7 linked regions of the Homo sapiens genome follow. The protein of the gene in region 1 purifies or fractionates together with the protein of each later gene. This does not show direct contact. Each region holds a gene or a part of one and is shown in the gene's direction. Other genes may lie near its edges. The genes, in order: MAP10, WDR62, PHLDB3, AMER1, AKAP11, PPP1R15B and GPBP1L1.

Evidence for each region.
Region 2: the proteins of MAP10 (region 1) and WDR62 purify together in Homo sapiens (affinity purification with mass spectrometry; one large-scale study listed by BioGRID and IntAct). This does not show direct contact.
Region 3: the proteins of MAP10 (region 1) and PHLDB3 purify together in Homo sapiens (affinity purification with mass spectrometry; one large-scale study listed by BioGRID and IntAct). This does not show direct contact.
Region 4: the proteins of MAP10 (region 1) and AMER1 purify together in Homo sapiens (affinity purification with mass spectrometry; one large-scale study listed by BioGRID and IntAct). This does not show direct contact.
Region 5: the proteins of MAP10 (region 1) and AKAP11 purify together in Homo sapiens (affinity purification with mass spectrometry; one large-scale study listed by BioGRID and IntAct). This does not show direct contact.
Region 6: the proteins of MAP10 (region 1) and PPP1R15B purify together in Homo sapiens (affinity purification with mass spectrometry; one large-scale study listed by BioGRID and IntAct). This does not show direct contact.
Region 7: the proteins of MAP10 (region 1) and GPBP1L1 purify together in Homo sapiens (affinity purification with mass spectrometry; one large-scale study listed by BioGRID and IntAct). This does not show direct contact.

Annotation. Positions count from the first base shown.
Region 1 is NC_000001.11:232,804,198-232,808,215, forward strand, and holds the start of MAP10 (microtubule-associated protein 10), read left to right. Parts: upstream 1-1,218; 5' UTR 1,219-1,252; coding exon 1,253-3,970; 3' UTR 3,971-4,018. UniProt on the Homo sapiens protein: Microtubule-associated protein (MAP) that plays a role in the regulation of cell division; promotes microtubule stability and participates in the organization of the spindle midzone and normal progress of cytokinesis.
Region 2 is NC_000019.10:36,102,753-36,105,608, forward strand, and holds the end of WDR62 (WD repeat-containing protein 62), read left to right. Parts: coding exon 1-99; intron 100-195; coding exon 196-322; intron 323-403; coding exon 404-455; intron 456-590; coding exon 591-1,229; intron 1,230-1,765; coding exon 1,766-1,923; intron 1,924-2,015; coding exon 2,016-2,276; 3' UTR 2,277-2,356; downstream 2,357-2,856. UniProt on the Homo sapiens protein: Required for cerebral cortical development. Plays a role in neuronal proliferation and migration.
Region 3 is NC_000019.10:43,487,747-43,491,246, reverse strand, and holds part of PHLDB3 (pleckstrin homology-like domain family B member 3), read left to right. Parts: intron 1-3,500.
Region 4 is NC_000023.11:64,188,709-64,192,208, reverse strand, and holds part of AMER1 (APC membrane recruitment protein 1), read left to right. Parts: coding exon 1-2,330; 3' UTR 2,331-3,500. UniProt on the Homo sapiens protein: Regulator of the canonical Wnt signaling pathway.
Region 5 is NC_000013.11:42,306,652-42,310,151, forward strand, and holds part of AKAP11 (A-kinase anchor protein 11), read left to right. Parts: intron 1-1,802; coding exon 1,803-1,958; intron 1,959-3,500. UniProt on the Homo sapiens protein: Binds to type II regulatory subunits of protein kinase A and anchors/targets them.
Region 6 is NC_000001.11:204,405,850-204,408,817, reverse strand, and holds part of PPP1R15B (protein phosphatase 1 regulatory subunit 15B), read left to right. Parts: intron 1-2,504; coding exon 2,505-2,726; 3' UTR 2,727-2,968. UniProt on the Homo sapiens protein: Maintains low levels of EIF2S1 phosphorylation in unstressed cells by promoting its dephosphorylation by PP1.
Region 7 is NC_000001.11:45,627,534-45,631,033, reverse strand, and holds part of GPBP1L1 (vasculin-like protein 1), read left to right. Parts: intron 1-427; coding exon 428-552; intron 553-1,355; coding exon 1,356-1,458; intron 1,459-2,625; coding exon 2,626-2,778; 3' UTR 2,779-3,500. UniProt on the Homo sapiens protein: Possible transcription factor.

The DNA of each region.
Region 1 (4,018 bases):
GACAGAATATAGTCCAAATTCTTTACCATGGCATTCAAGGCTCTCCAAAAACTGGCCTTGGATTCCTAGCTGGCTAGCTCATTGAGGTTAGGAGTATGTTTCTTAAAATATCTGGATAGAGCAGCAAGTTCTGTGTGTCTCTGTAGATGTGTGTATATTTATGTACACACATTTGTTTTATTGATGGAATCATTAACATTACTCTCATGCATCATGATTGCTTAGCTGGAAATGTTGTCAAATAAAAAACAGGGCCAGACAGTAGTTGAAGTGGCAAAAACACTGTAGTCAGGAACTACTGCAATAAGAGAAAAGAGACCTCAATACAGAGCTGGGCTCAATTCCAATTACAGCATGGACAAGTGGGGATTTAAAGCCAAGGGGGCGTCAGGTCAAGTGGATGGAAACTTACTGATAGGGAACATCACGGGTGGGAGGGTTCTGATTAAGCAGGCCTAATAGGATTCTTGCTGAAGCCAGGCCAGGGTGGTCAGATACCAATGATAGAAAATGAAGAATTTGATCAGGTATCGACGGTAATCAGGTATGAAGGGTTGGGGGTTCTCTCTCAACAGCCGTAGCGAGACCTTTGCTACAACTCGGTGATCCAGGGTCCACAGGATTGGAAGCCAAGGTCAAGGCCTAGTCGGAAAGAAGGCTTAGATGAGCCTGACCAAAGTTCAGCCAAGGAGAGTTTTTGCCAGTGTATTCACACTCCGTGTGTGTGTGGTGTGTCTGTCTCAGTACTACTGTAATTGATGAGGCAGGGGCTCCCTGGCCATCCCAGCAGTGTCACCATCTTTTGGGTAGAACAGCAGACACAGAGATGGCCCACTGTGGACAGTTAACTAACTGGCTCTGTTTAGCATGGGAAAGGAAGGAGAGTCCTGATTTTCTTTCAATATTCCTCAGGTATATTGATCTGACCCCCAAGTTACATAAGATCTGCAGTGATAAAACCATTACCCAAAAAACTCACTGTCTTTTACCACTTATATCCTCAGCATTATCATCAATTGTCTTAATACAAGGTTGGTGGCAAAAAACGGCTCACAAGTATGCATACAAAGGGGCCAAACACATTGAGCAGCAAAACCCCCAAAGCAGACACCGCCCGAGACCCGCTGGAGCGCTTCCGCAAATCTCGCGAGATAGCAGGCAGCGATGCCTTTTGCTCCGGTTTCTCGTGAGACCCCGGGGCTTCAGCTTCTCGTTTGCGGAGCCCGCGGCGGCGTTTCCTGGGGCAACAGCAATGGCGGCCTCGCTGTCCGAGCGGCTCTTCTCGCTGGAGCTGCTGGTGGACTGGGTGCGTTTGGAAGCCCGGCTGCTGCCGTCCCCCGCTGCCGCAGTGGAGCAGGAGGAGGAAGAGGAGGAAAAGGAGCAGGGGGAGGCCTCGTCGCCGCGCGGTCTGTGCCCCGCCGTGGCCTTCCGCCTGCTGGACTTCCCCACGCTGTTGGTTTACCCTCCTGACGGCCCCGGCGCTCCCGCCGCCGAACCGTGGCCCGGTGTCATCCGCTTCGGTCGCGGCAAGTCCTGCCTCTTCCGCCTGCAGCCTGCTACCCTGCACTGCCGGCTCCTGCGGACCCCGCTTGCCACCTTGCTGCTGCAGCTGCCCCCTGGGCGCCCGACGCCCACCCCACAGCTCCTGGGGGCCTGCGACATTTCGCTGGCCACCGCAGCGCACAGGGTCGTGGGGCCGGCCGCCTCCGGATGCTCCCACCGTCACCGGGGACGTTTCCCCCTGCATAATCGAGTGGGCGAGCGGACTGGGGACATTGCACTGGCCTACCGCCTGACTGACCTGGGAAGCCGCCTGCTGAGCCAACTTGAGCGGCCCCTCACCTTCACCCGCACAGGAGGAGGAGCGGAGGTCAGTCCCCAAACCCAGCAGGAAAGACAGCAGCTGCAGCAGCCAGCCTCACAGCCAAGCCCAAAAGAGGCTGATAAGCCGCTGGGGGAGTTAGAAATCCCAGAGGCACAGAAGGATTTGAAGGAAATGGTTAAAAGTAAGGCCGAATGTGATAATGTGGGTTCTGTGGAGAATGGCAAAACCAATTCTGTTGTTACATGTTCAGGTGCTGGCAATGGGAGAAATGTTAGCTCCCTAAATGAGGAAGTCACAGAATTGGACATGGAGACCAATATATTTTGCCCTCCTCCTTTGTATTACACTAACTTGACCCAAGAAAAACCGCCCCCTGCACAGGCTAAAATCACCATTGAGCCTCAAATGAATGCACCTGAGGAAATGGATGATGCTTCTCCTGAAAAAAAGCGTGTAAATCCCCCAGCACACAGGAGTTGTCTAAAGCATCCAAGTTCTGCAGCACACGAACATCCTCCAATGCTTGTAAATCCTCCACATATTCAGAATATAGGAGCAACTAATCAAACATGTCAAACTGAACAAAATCGAATTAATACAATAAGGCAGTTGCCTTTGTTAAATGCTTTGTTAGTTGAGTTGTCCTTGTTATATGACCAACCTGTGACAAGTCCTGCTCATATACATCCTCACCTAGCCTGGTTATATAGGACTGAGGATAAGAAGTCACCCGAATCTTCTGCCAAATCCACATGCCGGTCTGAAGCCAAGAAGGATAAGCGTTCTGTGGGGGGATGTGAAAAGTCAGTGAGTCTTCAGTATAAAAAGAACCAAATTGAAAACTATAAGGAAGATAAATATTCTGAAAAGAGCAGTGGTGCCCTCCATAAAAGAGTTCCAAAAGGGAGGCTACTTTATGGCTTAACAAATACACTAAGACTACGTTTAAAGCTGACAAATCCTGATATGTTGGTGGTACATGAAAAAAGAGAACTATATAGAAAAAGACAATCACAAATGTTGGGTACAAAATTCAGAATTCCGTCATCCAAAGTTAAACTATTAAGCTCTGCAGAACAAAGTCAGAAGCCACAACTGCCTGAAGATAAGTATTTAGATTCAGATGCATCTTTCACTGAAAATAGTGATACCTCAAGACAAATCAGTGGAGTTTTTGATGAGCCCAGCACAAGTAAAGAAACTAAACTGAAATATGCAACTGAAAAAAAGACAGTTGATTGTAGTAAAAATAGAATCAATAATGTTTCATTGGAAGAAGTTGTGAGTCCTGCAAATTCCATTATTCCAGAAAGGCTTACCCCTACAAATATTCTGGGAGGAAATGTGGAAATGAAAATCCAAAGTCCATGTGTTTTCCAACAGGATGCTGTTGTTGACAGAATTGTAGATAAGGAAATAGATATTAGACAGGTCAAAACCACAGATAATGACATTCTTATGGCTGATATAAGTGACAAGAGAACAGGTAAAAATAGTTGCTATGAAAACATCTCAGAACTGAAGTATTCAGATGATTTGTCTAGCCCTTGCTATTCTGAAGATTTCTGTACCAGTGAGGACACCAGCAGAAGTTTCAAAGCTCATGATAGCAGTTCAAGGACAGAAAATCCAAAACATAGTCAATATACAAGCAAGTCTAGTGACACAGGAGTGTCCAAAAAGAAAAATAGTAGTGACAGGAGTTCTATCCTTAGCCCACCTTTTTCAGCCGGGTCACCTGTACACTCATACAGAAAATTTCATATTTCAAAGACTCAGGATAAAAGTTTGGAGGAAGCATCTAGTATCTCTGCTAGTGATTTATCTTCAACACATTGGACTGAACAAAAAGAAAACCAGATAGATCAAAATAGTATGCACAATTCTGAAATTACAAAGAGAGCTCAAGACATCTCTGTTAAAACAAGAAGTAGTTGGAAATCTTTAGAAAAAAGCCAGTCACCACAAACATCCCAGGTGAGTTCTTACCTGCCTTCAAATGTGTCCGAACTTAATGTCCTGGATAGCAGTACATCAGATCACTTTGAAGAAGGCAATGATGATGTTGGTTCACTAAATATTTCCAAGCAATGCAAAGATATTTGTGAATTAGTAATAAATAAACTTCCAGGATACACAATGTAAAAATACATGCTTTTAAAAAACTTTCAAGGACCTATGTGTACTGTTAGT
Region 2 (2,856 bases), on another chromosome or scaffold:
TCTGGGAGACGTGGAGGCCTCTGAAGCTGAAGACCACTTCTTCAACCCACGCCTGAGTATCTCCACGCAGTTCCTCTCAAGCCTCCAGAAGGCATCCAGGTAGAAGCTGGCCAAGCACTGCCCACCCTCTGGCTCCTCAACAGTGCCCCAGGGCAGGCTGAATGAGAATCATCCCCCCTGCTCTCCTCCCCACAGGTTCACCCATACCTTCCCTCCCCGGGCAACCCAGTGCCTTGTGAAGTCTCCAGAGGTCAAGCTCATGGACCGAGGCGGAAGCCAGCCCAGAGCAGGTACTGGCTACGCCTCCCCAGACAGGACCCACGTGAGTATTGGGCCCACCTCCGTCAGGGCACGGGGCTGGGAACCCTGAGGCCTTGTCCTCACCTCAGAGCTGTGCCTGCAGGTCCTCGCTGCAGGGAAGGCTGAAGAGACCCTGGAGGCCTGGCGCCCACCACGTGAGTGCCCCAGTCCCAGACGGACAGTCCTGGGTTTCTCGGCGAGTGGCCGGATGTCCAGCCTAGCTGTGGGGCGTGGGGGCCCTAGCCATCAGTTCTGTGTGGTGGAGTCAGTGCCATCTGCTTCCGTTACAGCTCCCTGCCTTACGAGCCTGGCGTCCTGTGTCCCTGCTTCCTCCGTGCTGCCCACAGACAGGAATCTCCCAACGCCCACATCTGCACCCACCCCAGGCCTGGCTCAGGGTGTCCATGCCCCCTCCACCTGTTCCTACATGGAGGCCACTGCCAGCTCCCGTGCCAGGATATCACGCAGCATCTCCCTCGGTGACAGTGAGGGCCCTATCGTGGCCACACTGGCCCAGCCCCTCCGTAGGCCATCGTCCGTTGGGGAGCTGGCCTCCTTGGGCCAGGAGCTTCAGGCCATCACCACCGCGACAACACCCAGTTTGGACAGTGAGGGCCAAGAGCCTGCCCTGCGTTCCTGGGGCAACCACGAGGCCCGGGCCAACCTGAGACTGACCCTGTCAAGTGCCTGTGATGGGCTCCTGCAGCCCCCCGTGGATACCCAGCCTGGCGTCACCGTCCCTGCAGTGAGCTTCCCAGCCCCTAGCCCTGTGGAAGAGAGCGCCCTGAGGCTCCACGGCTCTGCCTTTCGCCCAAGTCTCCCAGCTCCTGAGTCCCCTGGCCTTCCTGCCCACCCCAGTAACCCCCAGCTTCCAGAGGCCCGGCCTGGCATCCCTGGCGGCACTGCCTCCCTCCTGGAGCCCACCTCCGGTGAGTACAGCCCTGGAGCAAGGACTGTCCCCTAAGCTCATCCTGTGTGCTAGTTGGCTCAGCTCCAAAGATGGATACTTGACCTGGCCACAGGGACTGTGCCATTCATTCATTCGTGCATTAACTTAAATATTTAATGAGCATTACATGTTGGGCTTTGTGCTAAACCCTGGGACATGGGACATGGTGGTAAACAACACAGAGAACTGACAGCTTCAATGGGGACAATGCCCAGACTAAACCTTTAAGGAACCCGTCATATGTATCACGAAGTGACACATGCTTAGGAGGGACAGAGGAGGGCGAGGGAGTGCAGGGTGGGGACAGGGGTTGGGATTACAAACCAGAAGATAAGAAGAGGCTTCAGGGAGGAGGCTGCATTGGAGCAGAGACCTGTAGGAGTGAAGGGGAGGGAGCCTTGGGGACCCAGAGAAGTGTTCCAGACAGAAGTACAGCATGGAGTCCACCCAGTCGCTCTGGCCGCTCACACCAATGGAATGCAGCTCATCTTGCTCATTCCCTTCTCTCTACCCCAGGTGCACTTGGTCTGTTACAGGGCAGCCCTGCCCGCTGGAGTGAGCCCTGGGTGCCGGTTGAAGCCCTGCCCCCATCTCCCCTTGAGCTGAGCAGGGTGGGGAACATCTTGCACAGGCTGCAGACCACCTTCCAAGAAGCCCTCGACCTTTACCGTGTGGTGAGCTAAGCCCCAGAGTTGGGAAAGGGTTGAGGGGTCTCTTGAGACCGCCCGGCCTTGGTGGCCCCTGACAAGGCTGGCATCCCTTGCAGTTGGTCTCCAGTGGCCAGGTGGACACCGGGCAGCAGCAGGCACGGACTGAGCTGGTCTCCACCTTCCTGTGGATCCACAGCCAGCTGGAGGCTGAATGCCTGGTGGGGACTAGTGTGGCCCCAGCCCAGGCTCTGCCCAGCCCAGGACCCCCGTCCCCACCGACGCTGTACCCCCTGGCCAGCCCAGACCTGCAGGCCCTGCTGGAACACTACTCGGAGCTGCTGGTGCAGGCCGTGCGGAGGAAGGCACGGGGGCACTGAGGGCGCAGCCCCTCCACCGCAGCCCTGCTGCTTCTGAGGACTTAGGTATTTTAAGCGAATAAACTGACAGCTTTGAGGAATGGTTCCTGGTGTCTGTTTGGGCCTATCCACAAAGCCCTCTTCAAGTGGAAGTGGGGAGGGAGGGTAGAAGGTGATGCCCAGAGGACTCGTGTCTGTCAGTGGAGAGCATGGGACCAGCGCTCCCAAGAAGTTCAGGAACTGCAGCCATGACCTCAGGGCCAGTCCTCCCACACTGCCCACAGAGCTGCCACAGACCAGTGTGAGGTGCTTACCCAGTGGGGCCCATTTGTGCCCCAGGGAGGAGCCAGACCCTCTTACCTGCCCCCTGCCAGTGCCTGAGAACTCACTGGGGCTGCTGTGATCACCATGTGCCTACCTTGCCCAGCAGTCCACGCTTTGCCATATCATGGCTCAGGGCCTCTGGGCCAAGGCCACACTAGATCCCACAAAGTCCACGGTGGTGGTGTCCCCATCTGCAACAGGGGAAACTGAGGACCCATGAACAGGCTTGCCCAAGCTGGGTATGGTGGCCTGCACCTATAATCCCGGCTACTCAGGA
Region 3 (3,500 bases), on another chromosome or scaffold:
CTTTCTGGCTGCTTCCCCTGGAAACCTGATGAAGGTAGGTGTCAGCTGTGTTGCCAGGCAACGTGACTTAGGATAGCAATTACCCTTATTAGTAAATTGCATATATGAAAATATTTGGTGGGACGCCATGTCCAGTCCTATGGAGTTGTCACCTGACTTGTTGGCCCCTGTGCACAGAAGGCCTCTAAGCCCAGGTGCACCCTGTACCCACCAATGTGGATCATTGCTTAGCTCCTGGATCTCACCTGGGGGCCATGCATGCTTCTACATGCATTGCAGGAGGTCACTCATTTAATCCTTGCAACAACCCAGGAAGGGCAGTGAGATGTTACCCACTTTACAGAGAGGACACCTCGCTTGAGAAGAGAAATGACTTGCCTACGTCATGCACCCAGGAAGTGGCAGAGCTGGGATTTGAACCCGAACCGGCCTGTTTCTATGGCCTGCTGATGGCTTATGCAGTTCCTACAACATAAGTGCCCTGCAGACAAAGCTGGGGTCTGACCTGCCCACTTGGTTCCTCAGTGCCAAGTATCTAATATCTCCCAGCTAGGAAGTGCTGGGAATGTGGCTGGAAGGAAGGAAAAAGTCAAGTAAAGCACGGGGATTTGAGCCTCAGTTTCTTCTCTGTGAAGTGGAGCTAACATTTCTCAACTCCCAGAGTTTTTATTTTTTTTAGTTTTCAATTTTTGAGACAGTCTCGCTCTGTCGCCCAGGCTGGAGTGGAGTGTAATGGTGCGATCTTGGCTCACTGCAGCCTCTACCTCCCAGACTCAAGCGATTCTCCTGCCTCAGCCCCCCAAGTAGCTGGGATTACAGACATGCGCCAGGCTAATTTTTGTATTCTTTGTAGACATGGGGTCTCACTATATTGCCCCAGTCTGGTCTCAAATTCCTGAGCTAAAGTGATCTGCCTTCCCTGGACCTCCCAAAGTGCTAGGATTACAGGTGTGAGCCTTCATGCCTGGCCCATTATTTTCTTACCCATGATTCCCCTTAACCCCTAAATATTCCTAAATTTACTACCTAATGTCAAGCCCATTCTCTTACACAACCACAGTTCAATGATCGATTTCAGGAAACTACCACTGAGACAACACTATTAGAATCCACAGACCTTATTTGTATTTTGTCAGTTGTTCCACCAATGTTTTTCCCTCCCTCCCTCCCTTCCTCCTTCCCTTCCTTCCTTCCTTCCTTCCTTTTTCTCTCTCTTGCTCTTTCTTTTTTTTTTTCCTTTTTGGCAGAGTCTTGCTCTGCCGCTCAGGCTGGAGTGCAGTGGTGTGATCTCGGCTCACTGCAACCACTGCCTCCCTGGTTCAAGTGATTCTCCTGCCTCAGACTCCCGAGTAGCTGGAATTACAGGTGCCCACCACCACGCCCAGCTTATTTTTGTATTTTTAGTAGAGACGGGGTTTCACCATGTTGGCCAGGCTGGTCTCGAACTCCTGACCTCAGGTGATCTGCCTGCCTCGGCCTTCCAGAGTGCTGGGATTACAGGCATGAGCCACTGTTCCTGGCCCCACCAGTGTTTTTTCTAGCAAAAAATTCACAAAAAAAAACAAACTTTTTTTTTCTTGGCTCAGGAACACAGGTTGCATTTAGTTGTCATGTTTATTTGCTTTTAAAAAGTTAACATTCTCCTCGTTCAAAATTCACATGGTGTGGGAGGATATTCAGAGAAGACTCTGCGGCTCTTGTTCCCCCTCCTACGCTGTTCACTTCCTGAGGGCCACCAGGGTTACCAATTTCCCATGTGTTCCCCAGAGATATTCTGTGTTGACACAGCTAGTCATGTATGTACTTTCTCCCTCTTTTATGCATACCTAGTTTATTCTATGCTGTTCTGTACTCGCTTAAAAAAAAAAAAAAAAAAACTTTAAGAGATAGATCTCACTGTCGCCCAGGCTGGAGTGCAGTGGCATGATCATGGCTCACTGCAGGGTCAACCTCCTGGGCTCAAGTGATCCTCCCACCTCAGCCTCCTGAGTAGCTGGGACTACAGGTGCACGCTACCACACCTGGCCTTGGTTTTCTCTTGGATATTATGTTCTGTTTTTTTTCTTTTCTTTTTTGGATATTATGTTCTACCTGGATGTAGGATGCATCTTCCTCTTGTTCTACACTGCAGAATTGTCCTTAGAGTCACTTGGGTGCGGTGGCTCACGCCTGTAATCCCAGCACTTTGGGAGGCCGAGGCAGGTGGATCACTTGAAGTCAGGAGTTCGAGACCAGCCTGGCCAATATGGTGAAACCCCATCTCTACTAAAAATACAAAAATTAGCCTGGCGTGGTGGCACATGCCTGTAATCCCAGCTACTCGTGAGGCTGAGGCAGAAGAATCGCTTGAACCCAGGAGGCGGAGGTTGCAATGAGCCGAGATTGTGCTACTGCACTCCAGCCTGGGCAACAGAGTGAGACTCCAACTCAAAAAAAAAAAAAATGGTCTATGGAGTGCATAAGCCATGGTTCATTTACCTTGTCCCCTTCTGATGGGCATTTAGGTGGTCTCCAGGCTTTTGCTAGCACAGATGGCACTGCAGGGAATCACCTTGAACTCAGATCACTTTGCATGTGTATGAGTGTATCCATCCGCTGAATTTCTAGAATTGGAATTGGGGCTCCATGGTTTATGCATTTGTCATTCAGATTTTTTTTAAAAAAGCCAAGTTGCCCTCCATAAAGCTTGTTCCAGTAGAACACCCCCAGTATCATGTGAGGGCATCTGGGTTTCCTACATAGCCACCAGCACGGTGGGTTTTTTGTTTTTTTGTTTTACTTATTTTTTTTGAGACAGGCTGTCACTCTGTCGCCCAGACTGGAGCGCAGTGGCACAATCTCAGCTCCCTGCAACCTTGACCTCCGGGGTTCAAGCGATCCTTCCACGTCAGCCTCCACAGTAGCTGGGACTGCAGGCACGTGCCACTATGCCCAGCTAATTTTTCTATTTTTTTGTAGAGACAGAGTTTCACCATGTTGCCCAGGCTCATCTCCAACTCCTGGGCTCAAGCAATTTGCCTGCCTCAGCCTCAAAGTGCTGGCATTATAGGTGTGAGCCACTGCGCCTGGCTGCAGTGGGACTTTTTTTTTTTTGCGACAGAGTCTCGCTCTGTCGTCCAGCCTGGATTTCAGTGGCGAGATCTCGGCTCACTGGAACCTTTGCCTCCCAGGTTCAAGCAATTCTCCTGCCTCAGCCTCCTGAAAAGCTGGGATTACAGGCATGTGCCACCACACCTGGCTAATTTTTGTATTTTTAGTAGAGACGGGGTTTCACCATGTTGGCCTGGCTGGTCTCAAACGCCTGACCTCAAGTTATTCACCCGCCTCGGCCTCCCAAAGTGCTGGGATTACAGGTGTGAGCCACCACACCTGGCCCACAGTGGGATTTTTAGAAAGAGTTTTATTGAGGCATAATTCACGTCCCTATACAATTCATTCATTTAAAATGTACAGTTCTGTGTCTTTTAGTATATTCAACGTTGCGCAAACATTACCACAAT
Region 4 (3,500 bases), on another chromosome or scaffold:
CCTGCCTGGTGACCTACCAAGGAGGTGGGGAGGAGATGGCCTTGCCAGATGATGATGACGAGGAGGAAGAAGAGGAAGAAGAGGTGGAATTAGAGGAGGAAGAAGAGGAGGTTAAGGAGGAGGAAGAAGATGATGACTTAGAATATCTGTGGGAAACTGCCCAAATGTATCCACGGCCCAATATGAACCTGGGCTACCATCCCACCACATCCCCAGGCCACCACGGCTACATGCTCCTTGACCCAGTTAGGTCTTATCCTGGCCTAGCCCCTGGGGAACTTTTGACTCCTCAGAGTGACCAGCAAGAATCCGCCCCCAATAGTGATGAAGGTTATTATGACTCCACCACACCTGGATTTGAGGATGATTCAGGTGAGGCCCTGGGGCTTGTCCGCAGGGATTGTCTACCCCGAGACAGCTACAGTGGAGATGCCCTATATGAGTTCTATGAGCCAGATGACAGCCTTGAGAACTCTCCACCTGGAGATGACTGCCTTTATGACCTCCATGGTCGAAGCTCTGAGATGTTTGACCCCTTCTTAAACTTTGAGCCCTTTTTGTCCTCCCGGCCACCTGGGGCAATGGAGACAGAGGAAGAACGGCTAGTGACCATCCAGAAACAGTTGTTGTATTGGGAGCTTCGGCGGGAGCAGCTTGAGGCCCAGGAGGCACGTGCCCGAGAAGCTCATGCCAGGGAGGCCCACGCCAGGGAGGCCTATACTCGAGAGGCTTATGGCAGGGAAGCCTATGCCAGGGAGGCCCACACTTGGGAAGCTCATGGCAGGGAGGCCAGAACCCGAGAAGCCCAGGCCCGAGAGGTTCGTTGTAGAGAGACTCAAGTCCGAGAGACCCAGGCCCGGCAGGAGAAGCCCGTCTTAGAGTATCAGATGAGGCCCTTAGGCCCATCAGTGATGGGCCTGGCAGCAGGGGTATCAGGGACCTCTCAGATTTCCCACCGGGGAATTACCTCAGCTTTCCCCACCACTGCAAGCAGCGAGCCAGACTGGAGGGACTTCCGTCCTCTGGAGAAGCGTTATGAAGGAACCTGCTCCAAGAAAGATCAAAGTACCTGCCTGATGCAGCTCTTCCAGAGTGATGCCATGTTTGAGCCAGACATGCAAGAAGCAAATTTTGGAGGATCTCCCAGGAGGGCCTACCCTACTTATTCACCCCCTGAAGATCCAGAGGAAGAGGAGGTTGAGAAGGAAGGGAATGCCACTGTGAGTTTCTCACAGGCCCTGGTAGAGTTCACCAGCAATGGGAACCTCTTTTCCAGCATGTCCTGCAGCTCTGACTCTGACTCATCTTTCACTCAAAACCTCCCTGAGCTGCCTCCCATGGTGACCTTTGACATCGCTGATGTGGAACGGGATGGGGAAGGCAAGTGTGAAGAGAATCCTGAGTTCCACAATGATGAAGATCTTGCAGCCTCCTTGGAAGCCTTTGAGCTGGGCTACTATCACAAACATGCCTTCAACAACTACCATAGTCGATTCTACCAAGGCCTGCCCTGGGGTGTGAGCAGCCTCCCTCGATACTTGGGACTGCCTGGCCTGCACCCTCGACCTCCACCTGCTGCTATGGCCCTCAACAGGAGAAGCCGCTCTCTCGACACTGCAGAGACCCTGGAGATGGAGCTCTCCAATTCCCACTTGGTCCAGGGCTACCTCGAGTCTGATGAGCTGCAGGCCCAGCAGGAAGATTCAGATGAGGAGGACGAAGAGGAGGAAGAAGGAGAATGGAGCCGAGACAGTCCCCTTTCCCTCTATACTGAACCCCCAGGGGCCTATGATTGGCCTGCTTGGGCTCCCTGTCCTCTTCCAGTGGGGCCAGGTCCTGCCTGGATAAGCCCCAACCAGTTGGACAGGCCTTCCAGCCAGTCTCCATATAGGCAGGCAACCTGTTGCATACCTCCTATGACCATGTCAATATCACTATCAGTGCCAGAGTCAAGGGCACCTGGGGAATCTGGGCCTCAACTAGCTCGTCCCTCACACCTACACCTGCCCATGGGCCCTTGCTATAACCTCCAGCCACAGGCCTCCCAGAGCATGAGGGCCAGGCCTCGAGATGTGCTGCTGCCTGTTGATGAGCCCAGTTGCTCTTCCAGTTCTGGAGGCTTCAGCCCCAGCCCTCTACCACAGGCCAAGCCTGTGGGCATCACCCATGGCATTCCTCAGCTGCCCAGGGTCCGGCCTGAGCACCCCCAGCCTCAGCCCACTCACTATGGGCCTTCCAGCCTTGACCTGTCAAAGGAGAGGGCTGAGCAAGGTGCCTCTCTTGCCACCAGCTACTCCTCCACTGCCATGAATGGAAACCTAGCCAAGTAGTTATTATCAATTCTGGAGTAGGGACACGGGGCCTGAGCATGTGAATGGGGATCAGGGGTTGGGCAGAAGGGTGGGGGGGTGGGGGTTGTTGTTTAACTTGAAAACCCTTTGGGCCAAGGAAAACTCCTGTGAGTTTTCACCTTGGTTTTCCCACTTGCCTCTTCTGCCATCTATGGCCACGTTCAACTCAAGTGCATCTGCCCAGGGAGGCTGCTGCTGCTACTGCACTCCAGTTTTTGCTTTCGAGGTTTCTTCTTGTGACCCACGCTGGGTTTGGGATGCTGTAATTTTGTGCCTATTCCAGTTGCCAAGTTAGTGATTATATATATATATATATATATATATATATATATATATATATATACACACACACACACACACACACACACACACATACATACACACACACACACAAACACACATGCACACACATATATAGCATGCATCCTTGACACAGGCTAAACCTTTAGTGCCCCCTGCCCCTTTCCCCCAATGAATGATGAACCACTGATTAGCAGCCAAGTCTGCATTGCCTCCCGCTTGGGGAAGTGGGGCTTATTTGCTATTAGCAATGTGAAATTATGGTACAGATCCTCCCCACCCCTATTCCTTTTGGCCTGGCATAGCTGCCATCATTATATCAGATGACTATAAGCTATTCATCCCAGCTAGCTGTCCTTAGAGAGGATCAAGTAGCGTGTGTCTCACAGCCTATCGCTGTGGACTTTGGCATCATGACCAGATGGGGGCCTTTTAACTGTCCTGCCATAGCTTGGGTTAAAGACAAAAATGCTAATCCCCTTGATGGAGTGATAAAATTCATCCATTTGCAAACAGAAGACAAAACAAGGTTCTGTTGTGGACACTGCCATAGAGTGTTGAGCTCCGGAATGATAGGATTTTTTTTCCTTCTTTTAAGCTTGTGACTACCTGAGTTGCAGATGCTTTTGAATTTTTGTTCTTTTTTCCTCTAAAGGAAATTTTCATAATCTCATCACAAGGAACACGGTCTTTTAATTGAGATAAGGGAAGAGAAGCAACCTAAATTAGGCTTGACTATAGGGGCTGGGGTTTTTGTGGAGTGTAGGGGAAAGATAGAAAATGAGGGTCCATTTATCACAGCCAGCAAGAAAGGGGATTTCAGACCATGCAGAGCTTAAGGTATCTCAG
Region 5 (3,500 bases), on another chromosome or scaffold:
TAAAGTTAAATTTGTCTTTCAAACTTGAAAGGAGATTCATTCAGATGGATTATTCTTTAAGGTATTATTTCACCTGATGTCCCTTTTTGTTTGATTCATGAACATGACCATAAATATTTCACAAACTGTAATGAACAGAGAGGTGGCATGTGAATGCAATTGGGAAATTATGTGATAGTACATTTTTATTCATTTTTGTTTGTTGTTGTTTGTTTGTAGAGATGAGATCTCACTATGTTGCTCAGGCTGATCTTGAATTCCTGAGCTCAAGCAATCCTCCTGCCCTAGCCTCCCAAAGTGCTGAGATTGCAAGCATGAGCCACCGTGCCTGGCTGATAGTGCATTTTTAGCCAACAAAACGATTATATTCTAAGCTATCATTCCGAGCCAAAATAACCTCACAGTCATTATAAACTCTTCTCTGGACCTCATCCTTTGGGTCATTTCAGCCAAAAACCATGAGAATGTGGCACATATTAGGAAAAGTATTCAAAAAAACAAAGTAGTAATCTATCAATGGTTCAGAACTATAATGTGCCTATGCTTGGAATGCTCAGTATCATTCTGTATCTTACAAAATTAGAATAGCTGAAAAAATGGGGGGCAATTCAGGGGCTATTCTCAGGATAGCACTAGGGATACGGAAGTAAGTAAAACAGGCAAAAATCTGCATTCTCTTGGAGCTTATGTTATAGTGGAATAAGACAATAGGTAAGTAAAATATATAGTATGTCACATAGTGATAAGTGCTTTGGGGGAAAAATAAAGCAAGGTAGGGAGTTAGGGAGTTAGAGAGTGCTGGTGGTGACAGTGGCGGTGGCCATTAGGGCTGGTTTACAGTTTTGGATAGGTAGCAGGGGAAACAATACTGGCAAAGTGATACTTGAGCCAAAAACCAAAAGTGAAATGAGAATAAGTCATGTGGGAGTCACCGAGAACAGATTTCCAGGCCTAGGGGTGGGACTGTGCATGTTTGGGAAACAACAGAGAGGCTTGTATTGCTGAAGTGGGAGGAGTGGGCCAGGGAGAACATAGGAGGAGTGGGCCAGGGAGAACAGTAGGAGTTCAGATGGATGTTATAAGAGGGGACAGGCAGTATGTTTTAAGGATTTGGGCTCTTCGGCTTGGTGGGAAGCCATTGGAAGGTTTTGATCCGAAGACTGACATTTTTTCTTTTTATGGAAACATCACTTTGAACTACTTTGTTGAACATAAAATGTAGTGGGACAATTAAAATAGTTGAGCAGTGAATGGACTTTCTTGTGATGATGGAATAAAAGTATAAATGCCTCTTATTGAGAAAAATGAAAGGGGTTATGATCTATGTTCAAAATCTTGAAGAGATTTGGTTAGTTTGAATACAGGCTTGGTTGACAATACTAGAATTTCTTGAACGACTTTTTTGTTCTTAAAGCCAGAAAGAGACTCCTTTAACATAAATAAAAGTACTGTTTTACAAAGCAGATGATAACTTAGGAACTTGTACTGCCCCATGGTATCTCAGTTGAAAAATGAACTGCTTTAAGTAGAATTTAGAGAAATAATGCCCTAGGGATAGATCCATTGTAGATTAACAAAGTAAGTTATGGCTGTTGGTGGGTACCTCAGTTAACTTTGAAATTAATACGCTATCCTACAGTCTGTTTGTTGGCAGACTCAAATAAAGGATTACATGAGCCACTGGTCTGATTCCGAATACCATTTCTTGTTTTTATCATCTTTGTCATCAAATTGATAGTCTTGTAAGTTCAGAATCTGGGATGCTTTCAATTTGATTTTTTTTCTTTTTTTCTTCTTTTTAGTTCAAAAGAAATAGAAGACTTTCAGTCAACCGAGTCTGTCAGTAGCCAGCAGATGAACCTCAGTATTGGTGATGACAGCACTGGTAGCTGGTCCAATTTAAGTTTTGAAGATGAACACCAAGATGAAAGCAGCAGTTTTCATCATCTAAGTGAAAGGTAACTACACTTTTGCATATAATTGTGTAGTTTAGGTCCTCAGATCTTAGAAGTGAGCTATAAATTTACATTATTATTTAAAAATTCTAAATTTGAAAATATGCTATTACTTTCAAAATGTATTTTATTATTCACAATGTATTTCTAATTGTTTTTAACACTTATTTAATACAGTAAGTAGCCCAGCTAATTTTATTGGGGTGTGCCAATAGTTGATTTGAAAAATATTGCATACATTTAATTTTATGCCTTTTAAGCTTCTCCCAAACTTTTTATGAACTTCTGAGGAAAAATTTTTTTTTTCACTTTAAAAAGGGTACTTTTTTTTCTTTAAAGAACAAGAAAAAGGACAGGTATCTGTAAAAGGCATCAAAGTAGCCCTGTACTTTTCCTGACATTAGTTAAAATAGTATCTTTTTGGTGGGGCGAGGGTCCCTGCTTGTCCTGCTGTTAGGAACAAAATGACCTGGAAGACTTATGCTTGAATGATTGAAAATACGTAAGTCAAAGCCATTATAAAAATGTGATTTTGTATAGCACAAGGCACTTACCTCATATATAACTTTTCTTAGTTAACTTTGTTCATAACAGTGGTGTTTGAAATATTTTATTAATTATGAGACAGTTGTTTCTTATAGTCTTAACCTCTACCTAAAGGCATTTCTGACTAACCTATAAAATTCTATAAACTCTTTATCCACATTAAGTGATAACTGGAAATAATAGATACCATTTGTAGCAGAGTCTTGAGGGAGGAAAGGGTTCTTAGCATATTGCTGGTTTCAGGCATGTGTGGAAAGGACCTGTGGACCATCAGTTGAACTTAGCCCCTGGAAATGGCAAACTAGGTGTGGGAGGGAAGGCAACTCTTGGAAAAGGGAATGAGGTAGCATAAGGAAAGGAAATGGCTTTTCACCTGATAGAACACTTCATCTCGAAGAGTTTTGTTCGATGCTTGGATTAACCTGGAAATATTAATATTTTTGTAAAGTATATTTTGTCATAGTTTATTATGGTGCTATATAAACCACCAATATTTCTTAAAATCTAGGTCCAAAAAGACAGTGTTTAAAACTGGTAGAAGCAAGTGGGGGCAATGTCACAAATCATGATTTGGCCCTTTTCTATAACTTTATCTAGAAAAGGATACTAACATTTAGTTTCTTCTCTCATTTTGAGAAACACAGGCTTCTATGATTTCAGTGGGGTTGACAGTGTTGCCTAGGAAATCCTGGCGTTAAAATGGGAGATTGAGGTGTGGGTAGAGGCTTTAAGCATTAAGAGGACTTGTAGTCAGTTGAACAACTCTGTGCTGAATATTATCTAATTTGATGAGAAAAAGGAGTCGTCTTACCGGTTTCTGTCCTTGGTTCTGTCCTCCTTAGCATTATTTATTAATGATGTGGAATACTCATTTGTGGATGATTCAACACAGGCTGAAAAAAGAATCTCATTAACAGAACAAAGGTTAAAAAGACCAAATCAAGCTGAGGTTAAAATAATTATGTTTAACATGGATAAATGCATTTAGGCTCAGAAAAT
Region 6 (2,968 bases), about 28 Mb from region 1:
GTGATGGCCACTTACTTGGTTTATCTTGACTAGTTGCTTCCTTTTCCCAGGCTAGTCTTAAAACTTCATGCAGCATTTTACGCTTTAATTACATTGTCAGGTTAACCTTATTTTGGGAGTCTTTAGAGTTGGTTTGTTTTTCTTTATAGTTGATTCAACTAAAGTTATTAATTGAACTCTTCTCCAAACTCAAAGGTGTCTATTATTGTAGAGGGAACGTTTTTTTAGTTTTCTATACCGTTACTTGGAGAGAGAAGTTAGTGGGTGAGTTATTATTGACCTCAGATTCTGCCTCACTGGGGCGTTTCAAATGGACAGTACCATAATCTCTTGGCTCCACATGGCCAGCTTACTACTTTGAAATTATTCCTGGGTAGAAAATGTCTCAAAATGGTGATAATCTTACGTCTTACCTTTAGGGCAGAATAAGTCATGTTAAAGATTAAATTTTAGTTCACACTTTGTAAATGCCATCTCTCTTTGTCCTTTTAAGGGGCCCCTGACAAAATGACCTATTTAGAATGAATAGGTAAGAAACAAAGTGGGGCAATGGAATGAGCACTTGGCAGCTGGAGCCCTGTGTTCTCTACTCCTCAGTGGTTAAGGCGCAGAGATTTGGAAGGCAGCCAGACCTGGGAAGTTGCTTGACTCTCATGGCCTCAATTCACTCTTACTTGATGGGTAAAATAATAATATCTATTGTACAAGTTATTGCAAGATTTAAATGAGACAAGTAAATAAAACTCAGAATTTATTGCCTTGCCTTTAAATGCTAGCTCTTATTGAGAGACCTCAGGCCAGTCTCATGTCTTGTTTTAGCTTGCTCGTTGAGTAAAATGAAATGAGTGGAGTAGATGATACTATTGACTATGAACTAGAAGCAGAATTTATAAATGATTATGTCTGAATATGATATAATTATTTGACAGCCTTTGACTACCTGCCATTGGTATATATGGGGAATGGTGTATGGAATATATGGAGTATATAGGATGATGGACAGTGAGTCTAAAAAACCCTTCTACCTCTGTTTTCTTATCGGTATAATGGGGATGATAATAGTCCATACCTCATAGGGTTAATGTGAGGATTAGATGAGATAAAAATGTAAAGCTCTTTAAAAAAAGCCTGGTATATGGTAAACACTGTACGTTTTTATTATTTATCTTAATGACACAATGAATGAGTAGTATTCAAGACTAGAATGCAATAACTAGTAAGGTGTTACATACCTGCTAATTGTCCTCAGGGGCATCCCTTGGCTTGATGTAAAGGGAACGAAAGTAGTAGGCCACATTGGGGTTAGCTGATGTAACTATTAAACATACTTGAAAGCAAGTATTTACTTTTGGAGTTTGATATCTTAGAAAGAAACTTCATTAGAAATTAAGTAGTGATTAGTAATGAGTAGGGATTGTCACTCATTACATGTCATTATGTATATTAGAATCACAATTTCATATATAGTGATAGCATATTGAATACAAAGGTTTTTAAAATCTTAACTACAAAGTTTCTTAGAGTAACACAGCTTTAAAAATACTAATTTTGCTATACTTTGTTTACTAAGTAACTTTTTCTCTTCTGTATTGTTATTGCCAAAGTAATGATACAAAAATAGTACAACATGTTGATTTAAAAGTTGGAAAGTGAAAAAAATTTTTAAAAGGAAAAAGAATAGAAGTAAGCAAAAATATTGTTAAAGCCTTTATGCAGTGATAAAAACAGTGACTTCCAGGGATATAGTGGTTATTTTCAGAAATATTTTGCTTGTCATTTTGAGGGAAAAATATCACAGAACTGTATTTCCCTAAGGATTAAAAAATAGCAGGGGTTAATAACAGCATGAAAAATTCAATTCCCTATCTGGATTCATTTTATTAACACCAAAAGCCAAGGGCTGGTGGGGGATTGGGGGGGGCAGACGACTGTGTGTGTATATTATGCAGATATAGATAAATGAAGTATATATAGATGAAAGATATATATCTCTATATGAAATATTTAGGTGACATTTGTTCACTATTTTATCCAAATGCCATCTAATCTGAACTTTTTTTTTTTTGAGACAGAGTTTTGCTCTTGTTGCACAGGCTAGAGTGTAGTGGCGCGATATTGGCTCACTGCAACCTCCACCTCCCAGGTTCAAACTGTTCTCCTACCTCAGCCTCCTGCGTAGCTGGGATTACAGGCATGTGCCACCACGCCTGGCTAATTTTTTCGTATTTTTACTAGAGACAGGGTTTCACTGTGTTGGTCAGGCTGGTCTTGAACTCCTGACCTCAGGTGATCCGCCTGCTTCCGCCTCCCAAAATGCTGGGATTACAGGCGTGACAGAACTTTTTTTTTAACTTCAAATATAGCTGGGACCAAATATTCCTAATAATAATATGTTATTCTTAGTTGGGAATATTCTGAAAGAATTGGTAGCATAAAGGGTTATTGACCTCAATGCTGATTGTAAGATCCTAGACAGTTATTAAAATTAGTCTTTGTTTTTGTAGGTAACCTTCCTTGAAGAAGTTACTGAGTATTATATAAGTGGTGATGAGGATCGCAAAGGACCATGGGAAGAATTTGCAAGGGATGGATGCAGGTTCCAGAAACGAATTCAAGAAACAGAAGATGCTATTGGATATTGCTTGACATTTGAACACAGAGAAAGAATGTTTAATAGACTCCAGGGAACATGCTTCAAAGGACTTAATGTTCTCAAGCAATGTTGAGTTGGCAGCCTGTAGTCCTAGCTAGCATACACTACCTCTTACCTGAGAGGTGTCTTTTAAAAACAAATCTTGGCAGCTGTCCTTTGACATTTTTTTTTTTAGAGGAAATGTAACTTGGATCTAGTTTAATTTTTTTTTTTGCAACATATCCCACTCAGAAACATTCAGGTTTGAAGCCAGCCCTGATAATGAAGGATGAACTAGTGTGATTTCTAATCCTCCCTTTTTTGATTTAGTTGGAT
Region 7 (3,500 bases), about 190 Mb from region 1:
TTGTATTTCCTTTGTCAAAGATCAGTTGTCTATTTGTGGGCTCTCTGTTCTGTCCCATTGGACTATTTGTGTCATCTTCTGCCAGTACCACACTTTTTCCCCCCACACCTCTTATGAGCACTGTTACCATACTGTTTTAATTACTCCAGCTTTTGTGGTAAGTCTTGATGTCAGGTAATATCAGTACTCTGGTTTTATTCTTCAGTATTGTGTTGGCTGTTCTGGATCTTTTGCCTTTTCATTAAAACTTTAGAATCAGTTTTGTTGATGCAGCAGGTCCTCATTTGTAAATGGGGAAAAAAATCTGTGGGCTGAGGCTGTCTTTTGGAAAACACTTCCTGGGTCGTGAGTCCTTGATTTCATAGGTTGCTTATATTACTACAAAGGAACCTTAAACCAACTGTGTCCTTCCTTTTCCTTATTGCAGTTGGAGGACAACAGCACACCTGAACCAAAGGAAAATGGGGAGGAAGGCTGTCATCAAAATGGTCTTGCCCTCCCTGTAGTGGAAGAAGGGGAGGTTCTCTCACACTCTCTAGAAGCAGAGCACAGGTAAGTGAGGAGGACATCACAGGGCATGCAGTGTCTGACCTTTAAGGACCTTGAACATACTGGAGAAGATATCTCAGATAGATAGGTCCCACATGCAGAGAGAAGTGGCCCAGTCATAACTTGTTCTCTGTGTATGCCCCAGGTTGGCCTGTTGCTCATCAAGCATTCTCTCTCAAACTCAGCCATCTTTTCCACAATCTACTCTCCAATACTTTAATACTTTTAACTTCAGGCCGGGCGCAGTGGCTCATGCCTGTAATCCCAGCACTTTGGGAGGCTGAGGTGGGTGGATCAGTCAAGGTCAAGAGTTTGAGACCAGCTTGGCCAACATGGCGAAACCCTGTCTCTACCAAAAATACAAAAAGTAGCTGGGCATGGTAGTGTGCGCCTGTAATTCCAGCTACTAGGGAGGCTGGGACGGGAGAATGGCTTGAACCCGGGAGGCGGAGGTTGCAGTGAGCTGAGATTGTACCACTGCACTTCAGCCTGGGTGACAGAGTGAGACTCCATCCCAAAAAAAAAAAAAAGCCAGACTGCAAGTGCTCTCTTTCTTCCTTACACTGTCTTGGTTTTGCTTCTACTGTCTCTTCTTTAGCTCTTCCTCTCTCAACTGTGAAGAGCCTCCATTTATTTACAGCACCCAGGTAGCCACAATTAAAGCTTGTCCCACAGGGAGGAAAACAAAATTCCTTCTTTAACATCCATTGCCCCTGGGCAGAAAACTTTTCTGTGAAAAGTGGTGGGCTGTTCACTTAGGCTTAGTGATGTTGTATTCTCTTTACCTGTCCTTCTGCGTCCACCAGGTTATTGAAAGCTATGGGTTGGCAGGAATATCCTGAAAATGATGAGAATTGCCTTCCCCTCACAGAGGATGAGCTCAAAGAGTTCCACATGAAGACAGAGCAGGTATGTTGTAAACCTTCTTCCTAGAGACCAGTTAGTAACCAGGAGAATAAGGAGTCAAGACAGTTCTTGCCCTGAGGGAGCAAGTTTAATGTGAGAGAAAGATCGGGTGGGGGGGGGGGGGATTACCTTAGTAGAAATGTAGTGGGGCCCCTAAATCTGCCTGGGAAATAAGGATCCCCAGTGTTATATACAAAAACCAAGTGTCAGTGATTAGCAGATTCCAAAAAATAGTATGCTCTTTCATCCTAACAGCTCTAACTCCTTATCAGAACCACAAGGCTGTGTTCCAGAGCTATGGTCTGAGCTCTTGGTCTTTAAGGAAGCAGGTTCACCTTCCTCTGCTTCCTGATCTGCACTGTAGTTTCCTGGTCCTCTGGCCAGAGCTAAGAAGCTAAATAGCTTGTGTCAGTTTATCCAGCAGTTGCTTGGATTCTTTCTCTGAATAAAACACTGCTAGATCTTAGGGTGAACAAGACAAATGGGGTTTCTATAAAAATCCTTGAACTTCTGGTGGCCTGTATTTACAGCACAATTGGCCAAGTCCTTAAAAGGGGCATGGCACAAGCTGATGTGAGACCTTGCCACTTAGAACTCTGTTAGAAATAAGGACTTATGGCTGGGCACAGTGGCTCACGCCTGTAATCCCAACACTTTGGGAGGCCGAGGCAGGCAGATGACGAGGTCAGGAGCTCAAGAGCATACTGGCCAATATGGTGAAGCCCCATCTCTACTAAAAATACAAAAATTAACTAGGCGTGGTGGTGTGCGCCTGTAATCCAAGCTACTTGGGAGGCTGAGGCAGGAGAATCGCTTGAACCCAGGAGGCGGAGGATGCAGTGAGCCAAGATTGTGCCATTGCACTCTAGCCTGGGTGACAGAGCGAGATTCCGTCTCAAAAAAATAAATAAATAAAAAGAAATAAGGACTTTCAAGCCCCATCCCAGACATTCTGAATCTGAATCTGCATTTTTGAAAGATGCGTAGATGACTCGTAAATTAAAATTTGAAAAGTACTGGTATAAGAGATCTCAGAGGGTCTCTTAGAAGCACCCCCCGCCCCACATTCTACCTAGAATTGAATTGAGGCCTGGCCTTTCCCAGGGCTTATGGGTCAGTACAGTCATTGATATTTTTTTCTTTTTTCTTTCTCTCCCATGCTAACCATAGCTGAGAAGAAATGGCTTTGGAAAGAATGGCTTCTTGCAGAGCCGCAGTTCCAGTCTGTTCTCCCCTTGGAGAAGCACTTGCAAAGCAGAGTTTGAGGACTCAGACACCGAAACCAGTAGCAGTGAAACATCAGATGACGATGCCTGGAAGTAGGCATATAAATGCTCACAGTTAAATCTGACCCAGTAAACTCTGTGTGTTTAGGGAGTATACAAAAGAAATCGTTCTTTTCCTTTTCTTATGTTGTTGAATACTTCATTCACAAGGGAAATAATCATATCCCAAAGAGAGAGCAATTGGCTTGTTTTGCTTTTGTTATTGTTCTTCCCTGTTATCTGCTTTATAGAGAGAAGTTTGTGTGGTGGGACAGATTTTTTAAACACACTCACACACACACACACATACACACCCAGTATATATGGGGCGATGCACAGGTAGGAGCTGGCAGTGCAGGGAAGAGGAGACACTGGTCTGCAGCAACAGCTTCTACTACCAGCCCTTGGGGCACTCACCCCTGTGATCAAGCAATCATTGTCAATGACAAAGTGACTATTGAAGTTATAATTGTATTAAATTAATGCTAATAATTTGGATATTTTATTTTATTTTTGGCTGCTCGGGTAACTTTAGCCCTTAACCAAGCATATGTGGGTTTTTTTGGTTGTTTTTTTTTGTTTTTTTTTTCTTTTTCCTTTTTGGGTACAGCTGTAAAATATTTGGATATAGGAAATGTTGTGTTATTCTTGCAGCCTTGATATTCAGGGTGGATTGTAAAATATAAATTTTTGTGAGATTTCAAAGATTAAGATTATTTTGATAACATTATTTACAGATTTAAAAGATGTGGTTATCACAAGTCTCGAGGGGGAAACTAC